3 separate regions of the Homo sapiens genome follow, and all the other regions are reported to be linked to region 3. Evidence: microRNA targets listed by miRTarBase, many of them from high-throughput screens and not tested one by one. Region 3 holds a microRNA gene; each other region holds the end of a gene's coding sequence.

Region 1 (4,000 bases), not on the chromosome of region 3:
AGTCTGAATGTTCAATGGAAATAGTTCAGTACTGAGAATAAAATATTTTTCAATTCACATTTGAATAGCCAGGTTTTCTTACATTCAGATTTTAATACACTAGAATGACAGTCTTTAAAACAAGCATGCTAGCCTATAATGAATATTGTATATACAGTAATTTAAACACTTAGAACTATATATTATACTGCAAAAGCAAACAGCACAACACTCATCATACTCATCATTATCTGCTGTGTATACTACCTCCAAAAATGAAAATACAAAACAGTAAAATGCACCTATGGTTTATATATATATATATATATATATATATATATATATATATATAGTTTATATATTATATATATTCTTACAATATATATAATATATATTTATAAAATATACATACATTTTAGACATTTTCAAATAAATCTTCATCATTATCTCCAAAAGAAATTTATAGCAAGAATACTGAAGGAATGAAAGTCAGATTAAAAAAAAAATTTCTCACAAAGTTCATCATCAGTGATGCAGCTCAATTTCCCCCGTTTTAGTCATAACTAAAATGATTATAAAAGCGAAATATTTTGCATAACTAAGTATTTGTTTAATGGCAAAAGTTGTTAAACTTGTTCAATAGAAAAATACTGAAGGTCATTATATCACTTTTGTTAAATAATCTGTCTATGGTTTGAGTAGCAAATGAGCTCCATATGACAGTTGAGTTTTGAGAAGGGTGCTGCAAGCTCCCAGAGATGTATCCACAGCATATGAAAATAAGGCAGGGATCCAAACCTCCCGCTAATTTTCATACTATTCCAATACATTTCAAACAAAATATTTACAAATGAAGCACTATGAAAGCATTTCAATGGCTGTTTAAACATTGAATTTGTTCATTCTGTGAATTTTCATTGAATGTTCAACAGGCTAGGGGAAAAGTCAGACACATGTATATGCTACTCTGGTTGGAAGACAGCTTTGGCTCATTTCTAGGCTGAGATCATGCAGTGCTGGTAGAGAAGACTCTCTCCGTAGTCTCCAATGCCACAGCACTGGCTTTCTAAGGAACTTTCAACAGTTCCATTTGCGCTACAGTCTATGTATCTCATGGTTATTTTCCACTCACTGACAGAAAAATTTCAACCATGAAGCATAAAATGAACGGGGGAAGAATGTCCTGGTTTTTAGAATTTCAGTGACATTAATAAAGCAGTAACTGAAGATCTTAGAAGGTAATTAATAACTGGTAGAACAATAGCTTTGTGGTCATCCATCATAAATACACCAAGTAATGGCATCTTCCTTCCTTCCTTCCTGGAAGGAATTTTCCAGTATCCTTCTACAAATGTTAGGTTAGAAACATTCTTTCTTCACTGTGAAGAACCAAAAGAAATTTACTGAACACAATATGGAATTCTGTATCTGCATGGAAATATTAAGTATTCACCTGACAGCTCATGTTTAGGTCAATTCATTTAATTACACAAAGCAGTCTCTTGAGCCTGCTTGTTAACCAAAGCACAAAGATGAAATGAAAAGGTAGCTGTATTACTACAGCATATCTGTATGAAAATCAGGCAAATTTAGCACAAGTCTCTAGCTTTAAAGAAAATTTGCCTGTATAATGCAGAATTCTAGAGGCAAACAGGCAGAAATTTTACAGAAATATTTGTCAATCATTAGCCACACCACCACCAGAATACTTTTTCAAGGAGTAGATGTACGTATCATGAGAAGCATCATTGTTATGACGATGGAAAATGTGGGGAATGGAATATGTAGAAATTGTTTTAATTGGTTAAAATATCTATAGATTTAATATTTTTAAAATCTAAGAGCCTATTTATATGTTTTTTGGTGGAAAGTTGGACGTTAATAATTTATTTCCAATTTCTAGATTGGTCTCTGTCATTTGGGACAAAGAGTAAGAGAGACATAAACCACTATAGAAATAATGTCTTTATGACAGGAGACTAGGTCTAGATAGCAGGGTCTTCAGAATCCCAAAAGGTGAACACATGTAGGTGGGTCACAGGTAAGTTGGGCTGGGGAAGCCTGGCCTTTTAAGGTGTGGATTTCCCCAGAAACAATACTGATCCACTGCCCATTAAAACATGTATATCTCAATTAAACAATGGGGGAGGAATAGGGAGAGAGAAAGACAGAACTTTTTAGCCAATATTTGGCATTAAACTCTTTCATCCAGGTTTCCAGGAGATTCTTACAGGGATTAATAGAGGACTTCTAGGGTACAAAATATTTGTTTTTATTAGTGCTTCTGCAAAAGCAGCTGCGTGAAGTTAACCATACTCTTTGGGCTATTAATAATTATGAACTGTTCTTGGTAGATGTCAGATAACTTGAACGTGACAAAGAAGAAAGAGCACAGATCATCTGAAGCATGATTAGGTGGGTGTTGATAAATGATTATTAGCAAATAAATTCTATCTTTTCAGTCACTGAAAAGTAAGATTTCATTGGTATGAAATAATCACTCTGGTACTATAAATGTCACATGAATAAAGTGAATTTTAAAATAGAAATTATTAAAGAGATATGCCCTGTTTACCCTTAAAAATAAACAGAATTTCAAACCTGAATAAGTTAAATCTGTTAGTAAAAGCAGAGTCGATCAACTATTCTTCACAATGGTGAGTGCTTGATAGCTAAACTTTAGAATGATACCAAATCTGTTTTCAAAACTGTAATACAATATAGAAATCTGCTTGCAAACTATTTGTCTAGCATTTCTGAATAATAATATATTTAACATATTATTGCATTTTTCTCCCCCTAACAGGTAAAATGCTTTGCCAGGTGCTTTATGTGAACAGCTGAAAGGAGAGTCAAATTAAAAACTCAGTTTAACACTGCCTGGTCATTATACACAAAGGGGTTAATATGGCAGATATGATAAAGATTACTATTTTGACTACTTAATGTGTTTTAACAAGATTTCTCAGGGGAGAACTTGGTCTAAGTTTCCCGTTTTCTTCTATTCAGTCCCAGCTATCAAGCTTTTAAATTATCCATTGTAGCATGCCCTACTTACTCAACAGGGACAAGCTAAACTTGTATTCGCTCAGGCCTGCCTAGCGAATTAGAACCACCTCAGAAATAAAGGCGCCTATTGGGGAGAAATTTGAAACAGACCTCAGGCTCACAGATTCAGCTGAGCTTGCAGCAACCTGAACAAACCTTAGTTTTAGAAAACAGTATATGAATTGCAAAACTATACTTCAACAAATGTTCTCTGTGCTCCTTCAGCAGAACAAAAGGGCAGGACGAGATGATTCTTGCCCTCGTCTTCTGTATCTCTTGTGTGCAGTTGATTACTTATAAACAGCTAGAAGGTGAAGATGATGCATTGCGTCATACAAAGACTTTAGCCAGTGCGTCAGCTCCAGCACTGGCTATATAGCATTTGGATGGGTGGAAAGCTACATCATGAATCGATTCTTCAAACTTTTTTCGATGAGCTGTGAATTCTTGGATACACGTCTTACTTTCTAGATTCCATAAACGTATTGAACAGTCATGACCTATATCCAAAAAAAAAATTAAAAGGAAAAATTACATTAACATGAAAATGGTAAGGACAAATAAATAATCCATAGTTGAGGTACTTACTGCCAGACATCAAGTAAAGGCCATTGGGATCAACTGCTAAACTTGTAACAGCTTCTAGGTGGGCTACCATCGAGTGGATCAGTTTGCCTTTGGAAAAAGAGATTGTTACTCCTTATTAATGCCTTTCCTCATCTTCAATATTTGCCAGCTACCATGTCCTGCTGGTTTCTCCAGTCATCCCTCTCTGTGTGCTTACTGTATTAATAGCTTTTTCCATCACCTAAAACAACATGTCTCCCTCTTGCCTCTAGTCATGGCAATGATATGGAAAACCAAAAAAAGCTCAAATTTTAGATTACACTTTTGTCTTTTAAGCCACGATATGGAAGTCAGTAATTTCTACACGCAACCCTTAAGCCACGTTTGTTAATTAGAACTTAGACAT
Region 2 (4,000 bases), not on the chromosome of region 3:
TGGCTTGTGTGTGGGGCATGCTACTCACCCTCAACTGATGTCTCCCAGGGCTCTGCAATGCCCCAGGCACTGGGATGAGGCTTCCAGATTCATCTAATACACATAAATGTTGCTCTTCCTGTCGTGTAGACAAGGACACTGAGGCTCAGAGAGGCTCCGCAGGCTAGTAAATGACAATTTCATATGTCATATTTCAGCCTTAACCTGAGTCCCAGGTAACACAGCCAGTCAGATCAAGAGTTAGAGTTCAAATCCAGGTCTCAGGACTCCAAGTCCAGTGCTATTTCTACTACCCCATTAAGCTGTAGAGCTTTCTGTAATAATTTCTCTCATTAAATTGTTTTTCATGATGGGTTATATTTAATTGCTTTATTGCATTTTAGGAATGCACAAAATATATGCAGATTTTTTAAAACCAAGAACATTCTATCCTTCCAGCCTCAGTCTGTGTTCTCCCATTCAGATTCACTTACTCCCTCCCACTCCCAATTTTTGACCTTCTATGTCCAGAAAGGATGAGTGCTAACTTGAGAGGTGTTTCGAATTTGAAGTCAGGCATATGAGAACACGCCCGACTCATCTCTGTTGCTGTGGTCGAATGTTAGGGCTGAAGGGGACCTTAGAGAAGAGTCCTCTCTTTTCAGAGAAGGAAACTGAATCCAGAAAGGCTGACGTTTCTCAAGGCCACAGAGCTGGCCAGTAGCAGAGTTGGGGACTCGAGGTGAACTTGAGTTGGCTCCACTGTCCCAGGCTGGCTCCATGACTCTGCCATGACGCCTGTGGGACACATGCTATTGGAATTGCTTTCCCTGGGCTCCCTTCACCTAGATGCAGGGGTGGGTGCTTCTGAAATAAGCCTTGTGAGGATGAGGAGATTAAAGACTGGACATGGGGGGACCATTTTTTTATCTTAAACTGAAACTTTCAAACAATGTATCAGTCTAAGGCCACCTTGGATAGGTTTGGGAAATAACTCCCAGAGCTACTTTCTGTTAAGATGCTGCTGAGACCTGAAAGGAATGTTAACAGGGAAGACACTAGTGCAATCTAACCTTTGTCCAACTCTTCCTCCAAATCATTCCAATCCGAGGTCATTCATGGCTCTGCTGCAGAAAAAAAGATGGCACTCAGGTTCAGAGGAAGGAGATTCTAGATTTATTTGGTCTAGCTGGGAAATACCCTCCTTTTGTAAAAAGATTCCAAATAGCTGTTCCAAATGTCATCTTTTTGACTAATGGACAAGTAAGTAAGTTTAGTACTTTTAGGAGTCAAAGGTTCACATATACATTCCCAATTAAGGGCCATTTCACATCATGCTGATACAAACTTATCTTGGAATGTGACTACCCTCCACCTGCGCTCTATACAAGGTCTTAGCAATGTGTGACTGGGATATGAAGCAGCTGAAAAATGCTACGGTCACATCCAAAGGGTCCTTACATGATGTGATCTAGCCTGGTACCCATCAATGGCTAGAATCCCACTCAACTGCAGACACGTTAAGAAGCTTCTACCTGACAGTACAGCCACAGCTGCTTTGGGGCAAAAGATGGGTGGAGACTTTGGTGGTGCAGAGGTGAGGTTGAGAGAGGCAGGACTAGAGTGAAAACAGGAGTCCATCTCCCCCACCTCTGGTAACTATTGGTGGGGCCTGGAGAGGGGAAGGTGTCCTTCATGCTCCTTTGGGTGACATATAGGAGTAGATTCCCAATTATCATCTATAAGCACTCCCAGTGGCTGCTGGTGAGTGAGAATCAGGGAACAATACCACTGGGAGTTCTACATTCCAAATAAAACTTGCTGGCTTCCTCTGGCTGTTGCCTAAGGCCGATAGGATAGGACAGGCCTGGTCTCAGGGGCTGGTCTCAGGGGCTGTTGTTAGCCCAGAGCCCAAATCCCAATGTGAGTCATACAATCATCATGAGGCACCAAGCACTCTGGAAAGAACATTCTCTAAACAGCACTGAAGTATCTGGACAAGAACACCAATGAATTCATAATCATTTATTGTAAATCACTCACAGTTTACACATTACCAGTGGCAAAATAACACTGTTAAACACCTACTGGATGAAGAACTTCATTGTGACTATTTCCAATTGCCATCATATCTTTTTCTAAAATTTAAAATTTAACTTTTAAATCCTACATCTTTTCTGAAAATATCTATCTTCAAAGTGCTCCAATACTAACACTATAAGCCCTTTCTTTTGCTCTAACATCTAACACAAAGGGCACACTGTCCCATTAATTCCACATGCACTTTACAAAGCAACTTCACACACAAATTTTTTTAATCCAGAAGCTACATAATGATCACTTTATATTTTGCTACAAAATTAATGAAGGCTGCATGCAGGTGAAACATTAGTAGACACGGAATTCTAGATAACTGTTGGTTCTCAAGATCTGATGGTCTGATGTGGAAAATTAATATGCTTATTTAGCAGAAGTAGCTAAAGTACATGCATCAGTGGCTGGGATCAATTAGAATATAAATTAGGTGCTTAAACATTTAAACGAGAGCTTAATTTGAGCTTAATTTGATGTCTGGCATGTCAGAGTTATACACCTTTAAGATAACAATAGCAAACAGAACAAAATCAAACATCTAAACAGGCATGATTTATAAGGTGGGCTGGCCATAGGGCTCAGGACACAAAACGAGCTGGGCAGTGAACAAATCTCTCTTGAAACAAAGACAGTAGAGCATTAACAAGCTGTAAACACAGCAAAAAAATAAACAAGAGCCATTTCCTGTATTCTCATTTTTTTCAGTTTTTGATTCTCTTAAGCAAACAATAAAACCACACACACACAATAATTAACAAAACAGAAACATTCTTTAGTTACCACATAGATCCCCCTTCTGTCTTCTACCCTGCCTCTCTGCTCCTTCAGATGGTTGTTTAAAAGCAATGATGGGTTAATTGGTAGAAAAGAAAACAAATGCTCTCCTGAACTACACTGAAAGAATATTACTTTCCTTCATCCTGTCAGGGTTAGCATCATGTTCAAGCACATGACAACGTATATTTGACGTATTTTAGCTATAGCGATTAAATCACATGTCCACACTCTAATGTTAAATCGTAGTAATATTGACTTGAAAAGTTTTTTAGGCTGGGCGCGCTGGCTCCCAGCTACTCGGGAGGCTGAGGCAGGAGAATGGCGTGAACCCGGGAGGCGGAGCTTGCAGTGAGCTGAGATCTCGCCACTGCACTCCAGCCTGGGGGACAGAGCGAGCCTCCGTCTCAAAAAAAAAAAAGTTTTTTTCGGCAGGGTGCGGTGGCTCACGCCTGTAATCCCAGCTCTTTGGGAGGCCGAGGCGGGTGGATTGCCTGAGGTCAGGAATTCGAGGCCAGTCTGGCCAACATGATGAAACCCTGTCTCTACTAAAAATACAAAAAAATTAGCTGGGTGTGGTGGCAGGCTCCTGTAATCTCAGCTACTCAGGAGGCTGAGGCAGGAGAATTGCTTGAACCAGGTAGGTGGAGGCTGCAGTGAGCCGAGACTGCGCCACTGCACTCCAGCCTGGGTGACAGAGTGAGACTCTGTCTCAAAAACAAAACAAACAAAAAAAAAAACGAAAGTTTTTTCATTGATAATTGTATTTCAACATTATTTTGAGATAAACAAAAACATTCCCAAACCACATTGACTCGTTCCTTCCCCACCCTCTGCCCCCTCCCACGATCCAATGTACAAGAGAGCTATTGTAACCAAAGCCATGAACCGAGGTTGCAACGGCAGACATGTGGGATGGCTGTTCCAAGTTCAAGCACTGCTGTCTCCAGTCCTGGCCTTCCGGGCCTCGATCATCGGCTTGGTTGCCCGTTTGCGGTCAGTGGCCAGCCCCAGCCAGCACATGAAATCAATGAACCAGGTGGTTGGGTTAAAATTTAAGCCAAATTCACTCGCAGAGTAGTCAAAGGGAAAGGTGTGATGGTAATTATGGAAGCCTTCACCTGGAAGACAAAGCGGGCATTGATATAATTCA
Region 3 (4,335 bases):
AATTTTTTGTATTTTTAGTAGAGACGGGGTTTCACCATGTTAGGCAGGATGGTCTCGATCTCCTGACCTCATGATCCGCCTGCCTGGCCTCCCAAAGTGCTGGGATTACAGGCGTGAGCCACCGCGCCCAGCCTTCATCTCTTTTACTAGGTTGTAAACTCCCTATATTAGTTTTCTATTGTTTTTGTAACACATTATCACAAATTTAGTGACTTAAAGTAACATAAATTAATTATTTTGCAGTTCTGGAGGTCAGAATTCCTTAGCATTCTTTCTGGAGGCTGTTGGGGAGAACTCACTGCCTTGCCTTTTCCAGCTTCTAGAGGCCACCTGCCTTCTTTGGCTCATGGCCTCTTCCTCCGTCTTCAAAGCCAGCAACGTGACATTTCAGATCTCCCTCTCTCTGTCTGTCTCACCGCATCTCTTCACTACCCTCTTCCTCTCATTCTGGCCCTTCTGCATGTCTTTTATAAAGACCTTTGTGATTTCACTGGGCCCACTCATATAAGCCAGGAAAATCTCTGTGTCTCAGATCCTTAATTTAATTACACCTGCAAAGTCCGTTTTCTCGTGTAAAGTAACATATTCACAGGTTTCTGGAATTGGGACGTGGACATCTTCGGGGGACCATTACTCTGTCTGTCATACTCCCTGAGTGTGTAAGGGCCATCTCTTCAGAGCCTAATGTGTCATCCTACACAGAGCAGGTGTTTCCTTATAAATTAAGTTGAATTAAATTACCCCTATGAAGCCACATAATCAATAATTCAGCTATAATAAACATTGCCGAATAAATTAACAAAGGGAGGATAATGACTCCTTATGATGATGGATAGAAACACTGAAGAAAACCATTTTCAGAGGATTTACTGAATTTTCCTCTCCAAGGAGCTTGTAATAGAAGGGTAAACCTCTAGTTTCTTGTCCAGCAGAGGAATAGGCTCATGTCTTTTGTTTTATTTTATTTTTTTGGTGAGTCAGTATGGTTGGGTTAATCATATTCACATTAGATTCCATGTTGAAGAACAACTAATCAAAGAAGAAAATCATCAGGAATCAGGGTGAGATTAACAGACCAAGGTCAGAAACATGGAGTTACAATTTTCCAAAAAAGCACGAAGTGAGATTAAAACCACAGTAAGTCTTAGTCTGACTGACAGGCTTTATACAGGCCCTCGGTAAGCAGTTGGGAGAACCCATGCCCACCACTGCTCTGTACGGTATCTGGCTGCTCAGAGCTCTCTGATTCACAAAAGAGATCATCAAGAATTGACTCTGTGTTAAACTGTTTTTCACTTAGAATATGGACCCCCACCAATACATTCAATGAAGGGTCATTAAGGAAGCTCTGATTAACACCAGGCCCATGCAGTTACTCCGCACATATAATCTGTGGGTATTATGTTGATTTGAACTTGCTTAGCTGACTTAAAGCAGGGTTTCTCAAACTGTAGTATGCATCAGAATGACTTGGAAAGCTGGTTAAAAACGCAGATTGCTGGGTCCACCCAGCTTCTGATGCAATAGGTCTGGGGTTAGAAATTTTGCTTTCTAATGAGTTCCCAGGTGATGCTGATGCCAATGATGTGAAGCCCGCTCTTCACATCCGTGAAAATCGCTGCCTTAAGGTGCTCTTAAATTGTTATAGATTGGTAGATCCTACCTTTCCATCACTGGTATGTTTTTTGAGAAAAGGATCCTTTCTTTTCATTCTGTTATATTCATCCTATTACATAGGATGTTGGTTAGCACAGAGTGGGAGCTCTAGAAAGATTGTTGACCAATCATCTTATTGACTAGACCATCTTTCTAGAGTATAACTATTTTGGACACCTCAAAGATGAAGTCAGATAAGCTGGCAGTGACCTGATTAACGTTGTGGTAAGCAGATGCCACTGTGGCTGGGAAGTACCAAATCTTCTGTTGAGTGATTCAGTCTTCCTGACTAGATTTGCCTTCTAGTGGGTGTATTAATAAGCGTTAGTTGATATGAATTAAATGTTGCAACTTTCTATGGGTAATAAGAGGATACCTTTATAGTTTCATGATGTGGAGACCAAGATACATAAGAAAGCAAGAATGAGTCTCCGGGTGTTCCCTCTGATCAGCAAACATGAATTCATAATTTCATTTACTCTCATTTTTGTAATGCACTCTGAGCAATCCTCCAGGCAGATCCTATTTACTAAGCTTCAGGCTTTTGTCCCATTTTATAATGCCCAAACACATGGAGAAAACATTTTGTTGTTTTTAAAAACAGGTATGGGATTTCTGATATAATCAATTTTATTGACTTCTTGGGAGTTGTAATGATCTGTGACTCACTGCATAATATTGTAGTTTTATAGGGTGGCACATCACCCTGTGTAAAACAACTTTAATGACCTGAGGACTGATGAGTACAGGAAGTGAGGTTTATCATGAGTAGCATTTATTAAGCATCTGCTAGAATCAAAGCACTGCATTAGCTACTAAGGTACAAAGTAAGACACAGTTTAATAAGGAAGACAGGGCATCTACCCAAGTCAACAGTTCAGTGACATCTGTTATTTGAACCACACACCAATGCAACCGAAGTAAATGCTGAAAGGGTGAGAAGAAGGAATAGATTACTATGCATTTTTGAGAGGATGAAGAAGGCTTCTTGGAGAAGGTTTCTGAAAAGAGATACGGAATTAAGAGAAATAGAAAAGAGCACTGACGAAGCACTCAGGATGGCTATTCAAGGAATTGGGGATCCACAGCAGCTGTGCACAACCATCCCTAATGCCAGAAAAATGGGGTAAGGGTGAAGGGAACTGGGTCTAGAGCTTTGCATGTTTTTTTCTGGTTAACCCTTAGAGTCACCCTGAAGGTGTGGATCCCATCTTATAATAAGGTGAGGACACTGAGTCAGGAAACTAACTTGCTAAAATCAAGTCCTCCCAGTCCTCCCATCAGGTCCTTCCAGATCTGGAGGAGCCAGGATTTGAACTCACATTTGTCTGACTTCAAAATCCATGCTTTTTCTTGTGTTCCAAATTGCACAATGGAGTCACTGCCAGTTCAAGCTCCTATGAAAAGGGATGGATGTGAAAAGTCATTTGTTGATTCCACAGATTTTTAGTAGGTACCATGTCTCCTGCCTTTATCACTATCCTACTCCTCTGCTACAACTTCTCTGCTACAGGCACCCACTGCAGTTACTTGATATGAGTTAAATGAATCCATCCATCCAAACTTCCATTCATTGAATAAATACTTAGCAATGGCTTCCTTTGTATCAGGCACTATTCTAGGAGCTGGGGCTACAGTGCAGATGGAAACCAGCAAAGCTCACTGCCCTCATGGAGCTTATATGTAAGTGAATAAATCTCAGGGTGGTTCTCCTGTCATAGGTCCTGGCTCCTCTGCCAGCTCTTCCAAATGGGTTCAGAGAGGTTTTCTCCTTGTCCTGTTGTGTAACTGATAATCCCATGGTGGACCTCACTTTGCTATTCATATGCACTAAGTAGTTTATGGTGTGCTTTGTGGCTGGCAATTGTGACAGATTCTATTCTTCTATTGGTATGTGGTTTCTTTGGGGCATTTGTTTGGATACTGATGGCATCTTCCGGGGGTCTGAGGCACCTACACAAACCTCAGGTCACTATCACGTGATACTGGAGTTGCCTGTTAAATTATATTTCTTCTTCCACAAAACTGCAGGTTCCCTGAGGGAAAGGTCTATGTCCTGCTCATTTTTGGATCCCTAATGGCTGGCACAGTACCTGGTGCATAATATGGTTCAACAAATATTTGTAAAATGAATGAATCAAATAGTCCTTCAAAGCATCTTCAGAATCAAGATTGTCATCTAGATTGCACCCGAAGTTTATCTTTCTAGTATTCAGAATATAATCAATCATTGCTTAAATTATTCCATTTCATCATTCTTGAATAAAAGCTACTAATTTTAAATACTAATATCTGAGATATCTTCGAAAAGAAGATTAGTCGTTGTATGTGTTGCTTATAAATTTTCTCTATGGTGGAAAATATTCCCAAACCATGTCTAAGCAATGAAAAACCAGTGTTCTGGCAGGAAATAAACTGATGTTTGTTGTGTTTTGTATCTGTCTTCCCGTTCCAAATCATTTATATATACTTGATGGTCTGTGGGCTTGACTTGCAAGTATTTTCCTGGGAGACATTTTTATTCAAAAGACCTGTATTGCCTGCCAAACCTTCATTTAAGAGACTCATTATGGATGTCATCTGCATCATTGCAAACTTTTCTGGTCGTCTCTATAAATAGCAAGATAATATTTACAGAGTTTTACATTGGCTCTTGAATTTTAAAATATTCTTATAGAC

Evidence for each region. Region 3 holds the annotated microRNA hsa-miR-6502-5p (AGCUCUAGAAAGAUUGUUGACC, at 1,761-1,782, shown strand). A microRNA usually pairs through its seed, bases 2 to 8, with sites in the 3' UTR of a target mRNA and lowers its output. Matches are read on the target gene's strand: a 7mer-m8 pairs with bases 2 to 8, a 7mer-A1 pairs with bases 2 to 7 and ends in A, and an 8mer does both.
Region 1: miRTarBase lists STRN as a target of hsa-miR-6502-5p. The part of its 3' UTR that is shown has no 7-base or 8-base seed match.
Region 2: miRTarBase lists SCD5 as a target of hsa-miR-6502-5p. Seed matches in the 3' UTR shown: 7mer-A1 at 2,212-2,218.

What each region holds. Positions count from the first base shown.
Region 1 is chr2:36,846,099-36,850,098 of GRCh38, forward strand. STRN (striatin) reads right to left here. Exons shown (of 18, transcript NM_003162.4): 17 at 3,616-3,702; 18 at 1-3,527. The coding sequence ends at 3,358. Among named protein-coding and RNA genes, the nearest start is that of STRN, 120 kb to the right of the region's middle.
Region 2 is chr4:82,627,550-82,631,549 of GRCh38, forward strand. SCD5 (stearoyl-CoA desaturase 5) reads right to left here. Exons shown (of 5, transcript NM_001037582.3): 5 at 1,990-3,968. The coding sequence ends at 3,778. Among named protein-coding and RNA genes, the nearest start is that of LINC00575, 8.1 kb to the left of the region's middle.
Region 3 is chr12:66,249,331-66,253,665 of GRCh38, forward strand. It overlaps MIR6502 (microRNA 6502), which reads left to right and starts at 1,752; the gene lies at 1,752-1,827. It overlaps IRAK3 (interleukin 1 receptor associated kinase 3), which reads left to right. Exons shown (of 12, transcript NM_007199.3): 12 at 1-4,335.